3 separate regions of the Homo sapiens genome follow, and regions 1 and 3 are each linked to region 2. Evidence: fine-mapped QTL for protein levels in blood plasma. Region 2 holds a variant in brackets. A gene starts in each other region. All regions are shown on their forward strands.

Region 1 (4,000 bases), not on the chromosome of region 2:
TATTAGGTTGGCAAAAGTTAAGAAATATGACAAGACCAATTGTTGGAGAGGCCGTAGGTTAATAGGCACCCTTCTAACTGCTGATGAGAGTGTATATTGGTGCTCTCAGAGATAATTAGGCATTATCTTGTAAACGGAATATTCTTATACCCTGTAACTCACAGTTCCATTCTTAGATGTATGCCCTAGAAACGCTGTCACACTAAGAACCAGACATGTCTTTGTGTTTACTTCTCTTTTTTTTTTTTTTTTTTTTTTTTTTGAGACGGGGTCTCGTTGTGTCGCCCAGGCTGGAGTGCAGTGGCGCGATCTTGGCTTACTGCAACCTCCACCTCCCGGGTTCGAGCTATTCTCCTGCCTCAGTCTCCCGAATAGCTGAAACTACAGGCGTACGCCACCACACCCAGCTAATTTTTGTATTTTTAGTAGAGATGGGGTTTCATCTTGTTGGCCAGGACCGTCTCTATCTCTTGACCTCATGATCCTCCTGCCTTGGCCTCCCAAAGTGCTGGGATTACAGGCATGAGCCACTGCTCCCGGCCTTACTTCTCACTATCTGTGTGACCTTGAGCAAATCACTTAATCTTTCTGTGCCTCAATTTCCTCATCTGCAAAAAGGAATCAATAATAGTATCTTCCTCATAGGGTTTTTGTGCAGATTAAACAAATAAAATAAGTAAATATTTTAAAGCATTTAGAACAGTGCCTAGCACACAGTAACGCTATATAACTGTTTCATAAAATAAAAATAAATAGGCATAGCCAGGTGCAGCAGTTCAAGACTGTAGTCCCAACTAATCAGGAGGCTGAGGTGGGAAGATCACTGGATCCCAGGAGTTCGAGGTTGTAGTGTGCTATGATCATGCCTGTGAATAGCCACTGCACTCCAGCCTGGGAAATATAGTGTGACCCCATCTCAGTAAATAAATAAATAAATAAATAAATAGAGATGCATATGTAATAAAGCACTTAAAAATAAGAGAACAATAAACACAAAATTCCAGAGGGTGGCTACCTGTGGGTGGGAGGCAAGTAGCATAAAAGTGGACAAGTGGTGGCCAGGTGTGGTGGCTCACGCCTGTAATCCCAGCATTTTGGGAGGCCGAGGTGGGCGGATCATGAGGTCAAGAGATCGAGACTCTCCTGGCCAACATAGTGAAACCCTGTCGCTACCAAAAACACAAAAATTAGCTGGGCATGGTGGCATGCGCACCTGTAGTCCCAGCTACTTGGGAGGCTGAGACAAGAGAATCGCTTGAACCCAGCAGGCGAAGGTTGTGGTGAGCCAAGATTGTGCCACTGCACTCCAGCCTGGGCGACAAGAATGAAAACTCTGTCTCAAAAAAAAAAAAAAAAAAAAAAAGCAGATAAGTGGTGTTTGCAGTTTGGTGATACTCCATCCTTGTGCTGAGTGGCAGCTTCAGGTGTGTTTGGTATATTACTGTGCAGTATGATGTATATGTATGTTACATAAGCTTTTTATGCGTTACCTAGTAAATTTTACAAAAATAATAAAAGGGAAAAAGGGCCTTTCTACGTGCCTAGAAAGAAGAGGCTTCATGGGAATGTGAGCCATGGGTTAGGAAAGACCCCCTCGAACCGAGGCAGGTAGGAAGTGAGTGACTGAGATTCATTATGAACCCACCACGCCTGCCGGGGAGAACAGGGACTGTCCCTTCCCCTCTGCATCAGCTCAGATGGTCCAGATCACAGCCCACGTGGGCCCCTAAATAAGGAGGCAGCCCCACATTTCTACATCGGCCACCGAGATGGCAGAGCAGAGGAAGGAGAGAGGGGAGACAAATCAGGAAAGGAGCGCCAGGGCAAGTGCGTGAGCTCAGAGACCCAGCAGGGCAGGGCAGGAGCTTCACAGAGTGCAGAATGTCGAGCCACAGGAGCGCTGGGGATTCCCCAACCCCTGCACTTACCAGCGAGAAACTGAGACCCAGAGAGGGGAACGGACTAAAACTCAGACCTCGACACTGCCAAAATCCTTCCCATGCTGCCACGCTTCATTGGAGGGAAAGTGAGAAGCTCAACCTTACCCCTGTGGGCTCCAAGAAGGGTAGCTCTGGGATCCCGGGCAGGAAATTGGTGACAAGGTGACAAGGTGCGCGTGTCACAGCTGCCCAGTTCACGGCTTATTCAGTCTTCTCCCTCCCCCCACTCCCCACCAGAAGTGACGTGCTTCCTGTGCCCCGGTTCCCACCCTAAACTAGCCTCATTTAGCTCCACTCCCATTCCGCTTTTTTTTTTTTTAATTGTGGTAAAACGTACACAACAGAATTTACCATTTCAATTTTTTTTTTTTTTTTAGACTGAGTCTCAGTCACCCAGGCTGGAGTGCAGTGGTGTGATCTCGGCTCACTGCAACCTCTGCCTCCCGAGTTCACGTGATTCTTGTGCCTCAGCCCGCAGAGTAACCGGGACCACAGGCACCTGCCACCACGCCTGGCTAATTTTTGTATTTTTAGTAGAGACAGGGTTTCACCATGTTGGCCAGGCTGGTCTCGAACTCCTGACCTCAAGTGAACTGCCTTCCTCGGCCTCCTAAAGTGCTAGGATTACAGGCAAGAGCCACTGCGTCCAGCCAATTTTTTGTTGTGTTGTTTTTAAGACAGAGTCTTGCTTTTGTCACCTAGGCTGGAGTGCAGTGGCACAATCACAGTTCGTGGCAACCTCTGACCCCTGAGCTCAAGTGACCCTCCCTCCTCAACTTCCCAAGTGACTGGGACTACAAGTGTGCAGCCACCAGGCTTGGCTAATTTCTGTAGTTTTTGTAGAGACAGAGTGTTGCTTATGTTGCCCAGCCTGGTCTCAAACTCTTGAGCTCAAGCAATCCTCCCACCTCAGCCTCCCAAATGCTGGGAATGAGCCACCGTGCTAGGCCCATTTTAATTATGTTTAAGTGTACAGTTTGGGGCACTAAGTACATTCACATTGTTCTGCAACCATCACCACCATCCATCTCTGGAGCTCTCTCTTTCTCTTTTCTTTCTTTTTTTTTTTTTGAGATGGAGTTTCGCTCTGTTGCCCAGGCTGGAGTGCAGTGGTGTGATCTTGGCTCACTGTAACCTCTGCCTCCCAGGTTCAAACGATTCTCTTGCCTCAGTGTTTTTGTTGTTGTTGTTGTTGTTTGTTTGTTTGTTTGTTTTGTAGAGATGGAGCCTCACTCTGTCGCCCAGGCTGGAGTGCTGGAGTGCAGTGGTGTGATCTCGGCTCACTGCAACCTCCGCCTCCCGAGTTCAAGCAATTCTCCTGCCTCAGCCTCCTGAGTAGCTGGGACTACAGGTGCACGCCACCACGCCTGGTTAATTTCTTTTGTATTTTAGCAGAGATGGGGTTTCACCATGTTGCCTAGGCTGGTCTCAAACTCTTGAGCTCAGGCAATCCGCCCGCCTTGGCCTCCCAAAGTGTTGGGATTACAGGCATGAGCCACCGTGCCTGGCCTTGCCTCAGCCTCTTGAGTAGCTGGGATTACAGGCACGTGCCGACTGGCTAATTTTTGTATTTTTAGTAGAGATGGGGTTTCATCATGTCGGCCAGGCTGGTCTCGAACTCCTGACCTCAAATGATCCGCCCACCTCAGCCTCCCAAAGTGCTGGTATTACAGGCATGAACCACCACGCTTGGCCAGAACTGCCTTCCTTTTGAAGGCTGAGCAATATCCTATTGTGCGTGTGTGCCGCATTCTGTTCATGCATTCATATACTGATGGACACCTGTGTTGCTTCCACCTTTGGCTATTGTGAATAGTGCTGCTACAAACAGGGTTGTACAAATACCTGCTCAAGACTCTGCTTTCAGTTCTCTGGGGTATGTACCCAGAAGTGGAAATGCTGGATCATAATGGTAAAATATACACAACAAAATCTACCATCTTAACCTTTTTTCTTTTTTTTTTTTAGTGGTAATTCTGACTGGGCTTGGTGGCTCACACTTGTAAATCCGGCACTTTGGGAGGCTGAGGTGGGAGGATTGCTTGAGTCTAGGACTTCAA
Region 2 (4,000 bases):
TTCTCCCACAACTACCCCGGTCAGGTCCAGCACTTGGGAGCTGACTGTGCTGGAGGTGACAGGCTTTGCGGGGTCCGCCTGTGTGCAGGAGTCGCAAGGTCGCTGAGCAGGACCCAAAGGTGGAGTTGTCAGTGGGAGGCCGGCTGTGCCCAGGGTCCTAGGGCCACGTTATGGGGGTCGTCAGGCCTAGGCCACTGTGCCTCAGGGCTGCATGGGTGGTGAGCAGTGGGAGGGATGCGATGGGGGGAGTGGGCTCAGCTGTCTGCTGTGGGTGTTTCCTCGGGGACCTGGCTGGCAGGGACCTCCCGGCCAGCCCAGAACTGCCAACATGTCTGCCAGCACTGCCCCTCCATTCCCAGTCCTGGGGGGAGGCTCTGTCTGGGCAGCTTGAGGCCTGACCTACTGTGGCTGCTTCCTCTGCTCCCCAGCCTGGGTCCTGAGGGCCTGGCTTAAGGGAACTGCTGCCAGAAGGCTGGGAGTGTAGGCAGTGTTCGGGTGCCCAGCTGTGCCCTGTCTGACCTCATGGCCACCCACAAGCTGGCACCCCCCACAGGCCTCTTGGGGAAGCCTGTACTTTCCACCGCCGGAGGCGGGTACCGCGTGGAAGCCAGGCTCAGGCGGACTCATTCTTTTTGAACTTTGGGAACAGGCCTGGTACAGGCTGAGTTCTCACAAGAGACACACACCCGTGTCACTGTCTCCTGAGCTGTGCCGGACCCGTCCTACAGACTCCACCTCCTCTAGGTCCTGGCCCTGGCATCTGCCAGGGGGATTTTAAATGAGTTGATATATGCTAAGTGCTTTGAAAGGCGCCTGCACGGAGGGAGAGCTGTATAAATATTCACTATTGGTAATATTTCTCCCATGCTGTTACTCTCCAAAGCTGCCCGATAATTCTAGAGTGGGTTCCGGGGACGTGCCCGCTGTTTGGGGCCTAGAAATGAACTCGGGAGGTTGTTTTGCTTGCTGAGAGCTGGTCTGGGAATGCCCCTTGACCGTTCCCTGCCCTGCTCCTG[G/A]CCCACTCCCAGACTGCTCCTGTGCCTGGCCCCATTGCGCTGGGTGGGTGATCCTAAGCTGCCCCATGGGCCCTGGGCTCTGTCAAGACATGGGGAGCTTGCCAGGAGTTGGGGCCAGATCCCCCAGACTCCAAGATGGTAACCGAGGTTGTGAGGGTGCACATGGAAGGAAGAGTTAGAAGAGTGAATTGGAAATTGCCAGCTTGGACTTTGGGCAGAGTGGGTGTCTTTAGCTTGGGGATGGGTTGTTGTTCAGAGACAACAGGGCCGCCTTCTCTGTGAGCTGGCGGCCCAGGCTGAGGTGCCTCTGGGCTGCCTTCCCTACGGGAAGCAGTGACTGGCCCTCTGCTTCTCAGGAAGAGAGTGCCGTGCCCCCGCCAGCCTCCCAACCTCGTTAGACTCCTAGAATCCGGTTTTCTGGATAGAACTAAGAATCTGCTCCTTTCTGGACTTTTAATCCTGGAAAGGGCTCCCTTCCCCAGCAGGAGCAGAGAGACCAAACCCCCTTTCTGTGCTCCATCTTGAGCTGTCATTCTGTCCTAACTCCCCACTGGCCACCATCTGCCCTTGCTTTGGGGGCTACCCCAGGTCTGACTTGGGCACGTTCTCTGGGTCTCTCCTCAGAGAGGCTGCTCCTGGGGTTGTCCCAATGGAATTGGGAATTCTTCTCAGAATGGCTCAAAGGTTTGCACCATCTGTTGGAGGGAAGGGATCCCTCTATCTTGGACTAATACAAATGTTTCCGTGCCTGCCAAGTTCCAGACCCTGGGCCGATAGGGAAAGGAGCTGGCTGGGGGGCCTGCAGGGGATGGAGAGGGAGCTTGGGCCCCAAGTGGGGTCTGAAGTCCAAGCCTACAGATTGCCATCAAGGCAGCCGCTAGAGCCTAGCCCAGCTCCTGGCCCCTCGGAGATGGACCTTAGATGCTGGAGAGCGGGGCAGTCCAGCAGTGCAGGGTGGGACACCCCGAGCAAACAGCCCCTGCTTCCTGCCCCCTCAGTTCAGTCGCACTGGGCCGGCTGGACGTTTCCCTGCAACAGGCCCCTGCTGGTGGTTTAGCTCCCGCTCCGTGTTTCCCTCACGCTGGGATCCTCCTTCCTACTCAAGACCCACGACCTTGACCTGAAGCTTTTGGTTGCCGGGAGGAAATGGTGAGTGTAGGCAGATTTGGGTGACTCTTGTTATTAACCCCCTCTTCTTTGTTGCCCCCTTCCCAGAGGCTTCTGTATGAGTGTCCTGAGTGGCCCTGGATGGACTACTGGCTGTCCCTGGCCTCAGAATCACCCCAACCCCTGCCACATTTCGGGGAGGGAGGTGTGTGAATGATGTCCTTTATTCTACAGACTGAGGAAGTGGTCAGTGTAGCTTCACGTGAGAGCAGCAGCGTGCGATGCCCAGGCCCTAGCCAAGTGCTGGTCAGCTTTCTGACTGGAGCCCCTGAGCCCTGCAGGGGCTGAATTCCCCCAAAGGTTGCTTGGGTTGTTGCATTTCGGGGTTAGAGGGTGTGGGTGTCCAGAGCTGTGGGTTTTTAGTGTTGGCTGAGCCCTTTACCTGGGACCTACAGCCTGGCCACAACCCCATCTCTGTTCCCCTGTACCCCACACTGCCCTGTGATAGGATGTGATAAGATGGTAGGATTGCCTATACTGAAGCCCTGGGTGCCACTGCTGGCCCAGCAGGGAGGAGGTTGCTGCTGCTCGGGCTGAAGTGAGGTGTGGGTCTGGCTGGGCCTCCAGTTTCCCACCTGGGCCTTGATTGTGAGGAAGGCCTGGCCTGGCTGCAGAAGCCCAGAAGCACCTGAGTAGGAGAGTTCCTTTGTCCCACCTGCAGCTCATTCAAGCCTGTGCATGGGGGTTGGGGTCCTCAGGATCTTGCTTTCCTGTTTAGGGGAGGCAGCCCCAAAGAGTGCTGGGACCAGTTTGGAGAGTGCTAAGGAATGCTGGTCTGCAGCGACCCTACTTGTGCTCTGCGTCCTCTGCCAACTGCAGCATGGGTGAACATCTGTACATCTGTCCCCATAATGAAAATGGCCTCAGCAAATAACAAAAATATTACCATTTAGCAATCAGGCACTTATTAAAAGCCTGGCCCAATAAACTTAAAAAAAAAAAAAAGATGTGCTAGACACTTTACGTCCCTTCATGTGAGCTTCACACAACCCTGTAATTAAGCCCATTTATAAATGAAGAAATGGAGGATTGAAGGATTAAGTTACTTGGCCAAGGTCATACAGCTCGTAAGCAGCTGAGCTAGGACTCAAATCCAGGCTTGCTTCCAAAACCTTCACTTTTCAGCCCAGTTCTCAACTGCCCCCTGGAGTTTGCTCATTTTGCCCCATGAAGAAACAGATCCCAGCTCAAAGGCGTGAAGGGGTTTGCTCAAGGCCACAGTGTATTAGTGTCAAAGGTGGAACACAAACCCTGACCTCTGAGTGCTCTCCCGAACCCCACATCCCGGCCGGGCCGTACCCTGAGCACACGCTTGTCCGCTTTCTCAGCTGGGCGGGGCGGGGCAGGACAAGGTTCTTCTCCCTCCCTCCTTCCCTCCTTCCCTCCTTCCCTCCTTCCCCGTGGGCCCTCCCAGCCTCCCCAGCCCCCACCTCTGCTGCTTTCCCTTGGCAATTGCTTCCATCTGGCCTGCCTGCAGCTCCTATTCCTTTGGAAATGTGGCTGCCGCCCACATGGCTGCAAGGCAACCACGGCCACACGTGGGGAAGGGGAGGGGCCCTATGGGGTCTAAGCACAGGGAACCCAGCCAAAGTGGCTGCTCCTGGCGTCTGGCATCCTGATTCCTGCCAGGCAGAAGCACCTTGGCTGCCTGGCCCTCCTTGATGCCCGTCCTGGGCTGGCTCAAGGCCAGAGAGGCTCCCAAAGACCCAATTCTCCTTCCAACATGGTGAGCTGTTTTGCCCACAGACAAGCTCCGCACCGGCAGCCCTCCCTGTCTCTTAGAGGTTGCTCAGGTTGGGAGGAGGGATTCCTGGCAG
Region 3 (4,284 bases), not on the chromosome of region 2:
ACATGTTAAAACATAGGAAGGCAAATGTCAAAGTTTGTGTTTCTTTTTATTCTATGGAAAGAAAATTAAATATGGCTCATCAAATAATAAGGCCAATAATATTTAATTATTGTTTTGTGAATTCGTATAAATGAGCTGACCTCTCTGGGCTGCAGCTTCCTTCTCTGCAAGATAAGGGAATTAGGCCAGATGAGTGAACTGTTTCTTTTTCAGCTAAGTTTGACCCGATTACTACTATTTACATAGTATTAACTAGATGCTATGTAGTCATCTTTAATATGCTTGAAGACAGTTATTAACTCACTCCTTAGCCTTTTGTTGTTGATCATGGAAAACTACTGGGTATCTTTGTTTCTTCTGTGTATATTCTCAGTATGTATAATGAGTCTCAGAGCCTCTTGTTTTAAGATCTGGGTAGGCTGGTGGCTCTAGAATATGGATGACCTTTTAGGAAAGGTCACCTTGCCATCTGTAAATTTTCCCCCAGATAGACTTCAGGCCCTGGGGAAGGCATGGGTTCCCCTAACTGGATAGAGGATCAGAGCCAGGAAGACTGTGTCAAATTCTAGAAGTGAATCTTCTCCAGGACTCAGGGCATAGCTTTGTCACTTACCTATAGTTCAGAAGTGTGAGTGAATCATTTCCAAGGACAAATTTCTCCAAAGGACCAAAAGATGTGTTAGTAAGAGGGGTTCACAAAGACTGTGTTTGTGGGAAAATTGAAGTGTGAACAAAGAAGGTCTACCAGGACAGGAAATACTTTTGATCTGTCATTTATCAGATCAGGAGGGAGGGACATGAAGCCTGCCTCCTCTTACAGCTAGGTCATCAAAGAGTTTGACTGTAGCATTTTAAAATAGCGAAGAAAAAAAGGTAACAACACTAGGGGTTTGTTAAACAATTTATGATATAATTAGAGAATGGAATATTATGCATCAATTACAAATAATGTTTATAAAGATACTTAAATGACATGGGAAAATGTTCAAGATATAACAAATAATAGTACATATCTGATGAAAACTATAAGTAAAACATGATATTAAACATGTAAAAATCTTAACAGACCAACAGGTGGAAGGCAGTGGACCAGAATATTAGCAGTGTTTATATTAGGGTGGTAAGAATGTGGATGAATCTTGTTTTAATGCTTATAATTTTTCTAAACATTCTCAATGAAATATGCCTTACTTTTATAGTCAGAATAAAAAGCAATACAAGTTATCTTTTAAAACAACCCACATACACAAAACCCCCAACTAGAGTAATTGCACAAAGCTTAGATTATCAAAAAGAAGAAAAAAATTACTGGAAAAGTTTTGAAGAAGTCATTGAGTACAAGATACTGACGTAGGTGCCGGAAGAAGAGAGCAGTTGGCCGTGCTGGTGGAATAACCCTCTCTGCAAAGGGCCTGGGAGTTGAAGAAGGGTGCAGTCGGGTGGTGGTTATGAATCTCAGAAATCCTGCCACGGAGCCTCCTTTTGTGCCCTATTACTTAACCTTGAGGGACATAGAGAGCATGAGACACCAAGGGGCTTTTGGTTGCCTTACTGTCCCACTAAGAACATAGAATGTTGTTTTGACTTTCCCTTTGCTTAGGGAACCTCCCCCAGATACTCAGCTGGCTGGCTGCTTGCACGTAGAATGGGTTTTGCAAAGTTCCTAGAAGTGAGTTGGAGGAGGCTTGACATAAATCAAGCACTGTGTGCTAAATGCTCCAGAGGGCTACCTTATGTCCTACACAAATGTTACATTTCTAATATTTGTAACTCCTTTAAACGTTTATGCAGATGTTTCCCAATTCCTCAGTAGAATTCTTACCATTATCTTTTTGACACAACCTGTCCCCATCCTATGAAAATCTCTCCTCTGCTAGAGACTTTATTCTTTCTTTCTCTCTCTCCCCCTTCCTTCCTTCCCTCCCTCCCTCTTTCTTTCTTTCCATCTTTCTTTCTTTCTTTCTTTCTTTCTTTCTTTCTTTCTTTCTTTCTTTCTTTCTTTCTCTTTCTTTCTTTCTTTTCTTTCTTTCTTTCTTTCTCTTTCTCTCTCTTTCTTTCTTCCTTTCTTTTTTCTCTCTCCCCTTCCTTCCTTCTTTCCTTCTTTTCTTTTCTTTTCTTTTCTTTTCTTTCTCTCTTTCTTTCTGTCTTTCTTTTCTCATTCTGTTGCCCTGGCTGGAGTGCAGTGGCATGATCTCGGCTCATAGCAGCCTCCACCTCCTGGGTTCAAGCGATTCTCCTGCCTTAGCCTCCCTAGTAGCTGGGATTACAGGTACCCACCATGATGCCTGGCTAATTTTTTGTATTTTCAATGGAGACGGGGTTTCACCATGTTGGCCAGGCTCGTCTTGACCTCCTGGCCTCAAATGATCCACCCACTTTGGCCTCCCAAATTGCTGGCATTACAGGCGTGAGCCACTGCACCCGGCCTGTTCCTTCTTAAGAACACTTTGTCTCCCCTTTAATCTCTGCTGGATTTCAAGCACCCCTTTTACACAACTCTTGATATCCATCAATAAAGAATAATTCCCATAAGCCCATCATGTAGTGACCGACTATTTTTCAGTGACAAAAAAAAAGTCTTTAAAAATAGAAGTAAAAGTCTAAAGTCATCAAAACAACGTTATATCCTGTGTGAAATGCTGCAGTCAGGATGCCTTGTGGTTTGAGTGCCTTGATCATGTGCCCTAAGGGGATGGTGGCGGTGGTGGTGGCCGTGGATGACGGAGACTCTCAGGCCTTGGCAGGTGCGTCTTTCAGTTCCCCTCACACTTCGGGTTCCTCGGGGAGGAGGGGCTGGAACCCTAGCCCATCGTCAGGACAAAGATGCTCAGGCTGCTCTTGGCTCTCAACTTATTCCCTTCAATTCAAGTAACAGGTAAACAATGTTAATGTCTTTCTTTCTGTAAATATTTTTTGAGGTCTTCCAATTGGCTTAGTTTATTTTAAATTTCTAACAATGTGTGAAATTTGAACATTTGAAGTGTAGTTTTGCTGTAATAGGGCAATGTGTTATTTTGAAAATCATTGATTCTCAGACTACAATATAGTATCTTAACAAAAGTCCCTTGGAAATAAATTTTCTAAGCTATTAGTTTCTCTAGCTATTAGTTGATAGTGTCCCAAGAATTTATTATTATTATTATTATTTTAAATTGAGATGGGGTTTCACTATGTTGCCCAGGCTGGTCTCAAACTTCTGAGCTCAAGCAATCCACCTGCCTCTGCCTCCCAAAGTGCTAGGGTTACAGGCATGAGCTACCATGCCCGGCCAATAATTTTTAATTTATGTATCGTTTCTTTCTTTCTTTCTTTTTTTTTTTAATTTAAGAAAGCTGCTGTAAGTAGATTGGCTCTGGAAGCTCTGAATTTAGGTTGCCTATGTTCCTAACACAGGTCCAATTCTCACTAGGTAAGCTTAGGCTTAGCTATTATTTAAACTCTCCAAACCTCAGTTTCCTTAACTGTAAAGTGGGAATAATAATAAACCTCACCTCAAGGTCATTGTGAGGTAAAATGAAATAATCCATGCGAAGGGCTTAGCTCAGTCAGGCTTCAAGATAAATGTGAACTGTAATTACTCTATCTACCTGAATTGAATGAGTTCCAACATGAATTCTGGAGTCACCACAGAAGCTGCTACAACACCAATATTAATAAATTAGTTTTCTTTTACAATCGGCCAAAATGTATTTTCTTAGATTAAAATTCTTTAAGTTCCCAATGACGATGATGAGGAGGATAATACATCTAGCACTTTGAGCAGCACACAGTTCTCGTAACTAGAAGGTAGGTATTACAGTTAACTTCATTTCAGATGAAGAGACTGAGGGGTAGGCACATTAAGGGATTTGCCCAAGGATGTACAGGTGGCAGCTATAGGAGGCAGGGTCTGAACCACCTTAGTCTGACTCCAGTGCCGGTGTTGTTGATTATTATGCTATTCCATCTAACATGGTGTGATTTGTAATTTCATGGACTCAGGTAAATCCAGGGTTAAATTAACTTCGGAAAATCACAAGCACAATTCCTAACAGAAAGAATTTGTTACTTGGGTGGGCTGGAGTAAGATGCTCATTCAACGTGTTCTCAGAGTTAGAAAAAGGCCCCCGCTTGGTTCAAAAACTGGACTGATAGGGGTCAACAGTCATGCTTAAATAAGGACAGTTATTTTTCCCTGAAAGATACATTGAAAAGCCAGTATCCTCAATTTTCTTTCTTATTTTGGCAGTACAGAGACTGCATTATTTGTTGTTATTCTTAAACATTAAGTGTACATAGCCCAAA

Alleles and levels. Alleles are on the strand shown, and positions count from the first base shown. The strength of an association depends on the size of the effect and on how common the allele is.
As copies of G replace A in region 2, the plasma level of the protein whose gene starts at base 2,156 in region 1 goes down (weak association).
For the plasma level of the protein whose gene starts at base 2,766 in region 3, allele A in region 2 goes with a higher level than allele G (weak association).

Evidence for each region. PIP is the posterior inclusion probability: the model's chance that the variant is causal. The UK Biobank Pharma Proteomics Project read protein levels with antibody pairs (Olink). The fine-mapping took linkage between variants from a reference panel, not from the people measured, so its PIPs are less certain.
Region 1: it holds the start of ICAM2, and the variant in region 2 is fine-mapped to the plasma level of the ICAM2 protein (UK Biobank, PIP above 0.99).
Region 3: CD28 starts here. The variant in region 2 is fine-mapped to the plasma level of the CD28 protein (UK Biobank, PIP 0.94).

Annotation. Positions count from the first base shown.
Region 1 is chr17:64,018,478-64,022,477 of GRCh38, forward strand. ICAM2 (intercellular adhesion molecule 2) reads right to left here and starts at 2,156. Exons shown (of 5, transcript NM_001099789.2): 1 at 2,046-2,156. RefSeq lists enhancers at 1,776-1,895, 1,990-2,490, 2,236-2,325, 2,546-2,595.
Region 2 is chr11:126,356,184-126,360,183 of GRCh38, forward strand. The region is part of intron 1 of ST3GAL4 (ST3 beta-galactoside alpha-2,3-sialyltransferase 4); the gene reads left to right. Among named protein-coding and RNA genes, the nearest start is that of ST3GAL4, 2.5 kb to the left of the region's middle. RefSeq lists enhancers at 1-624, 312-461, 2,111-2,852. The variant G/A (reference allele first, on the strand shown) is at 1,017.
Region 3 is chr2:203,703,874-203,708,157 of GRCh38, forward strand. It overlaps CD28 (CD28 molecule), which reads left to right and starts at 2,766. Exons shown (of 4, transcript NM_006139.4): 1 at 2,766-2,875. The coding sequence starts at 2,824. RefSeq lists an enhancer at 2,646-2,795.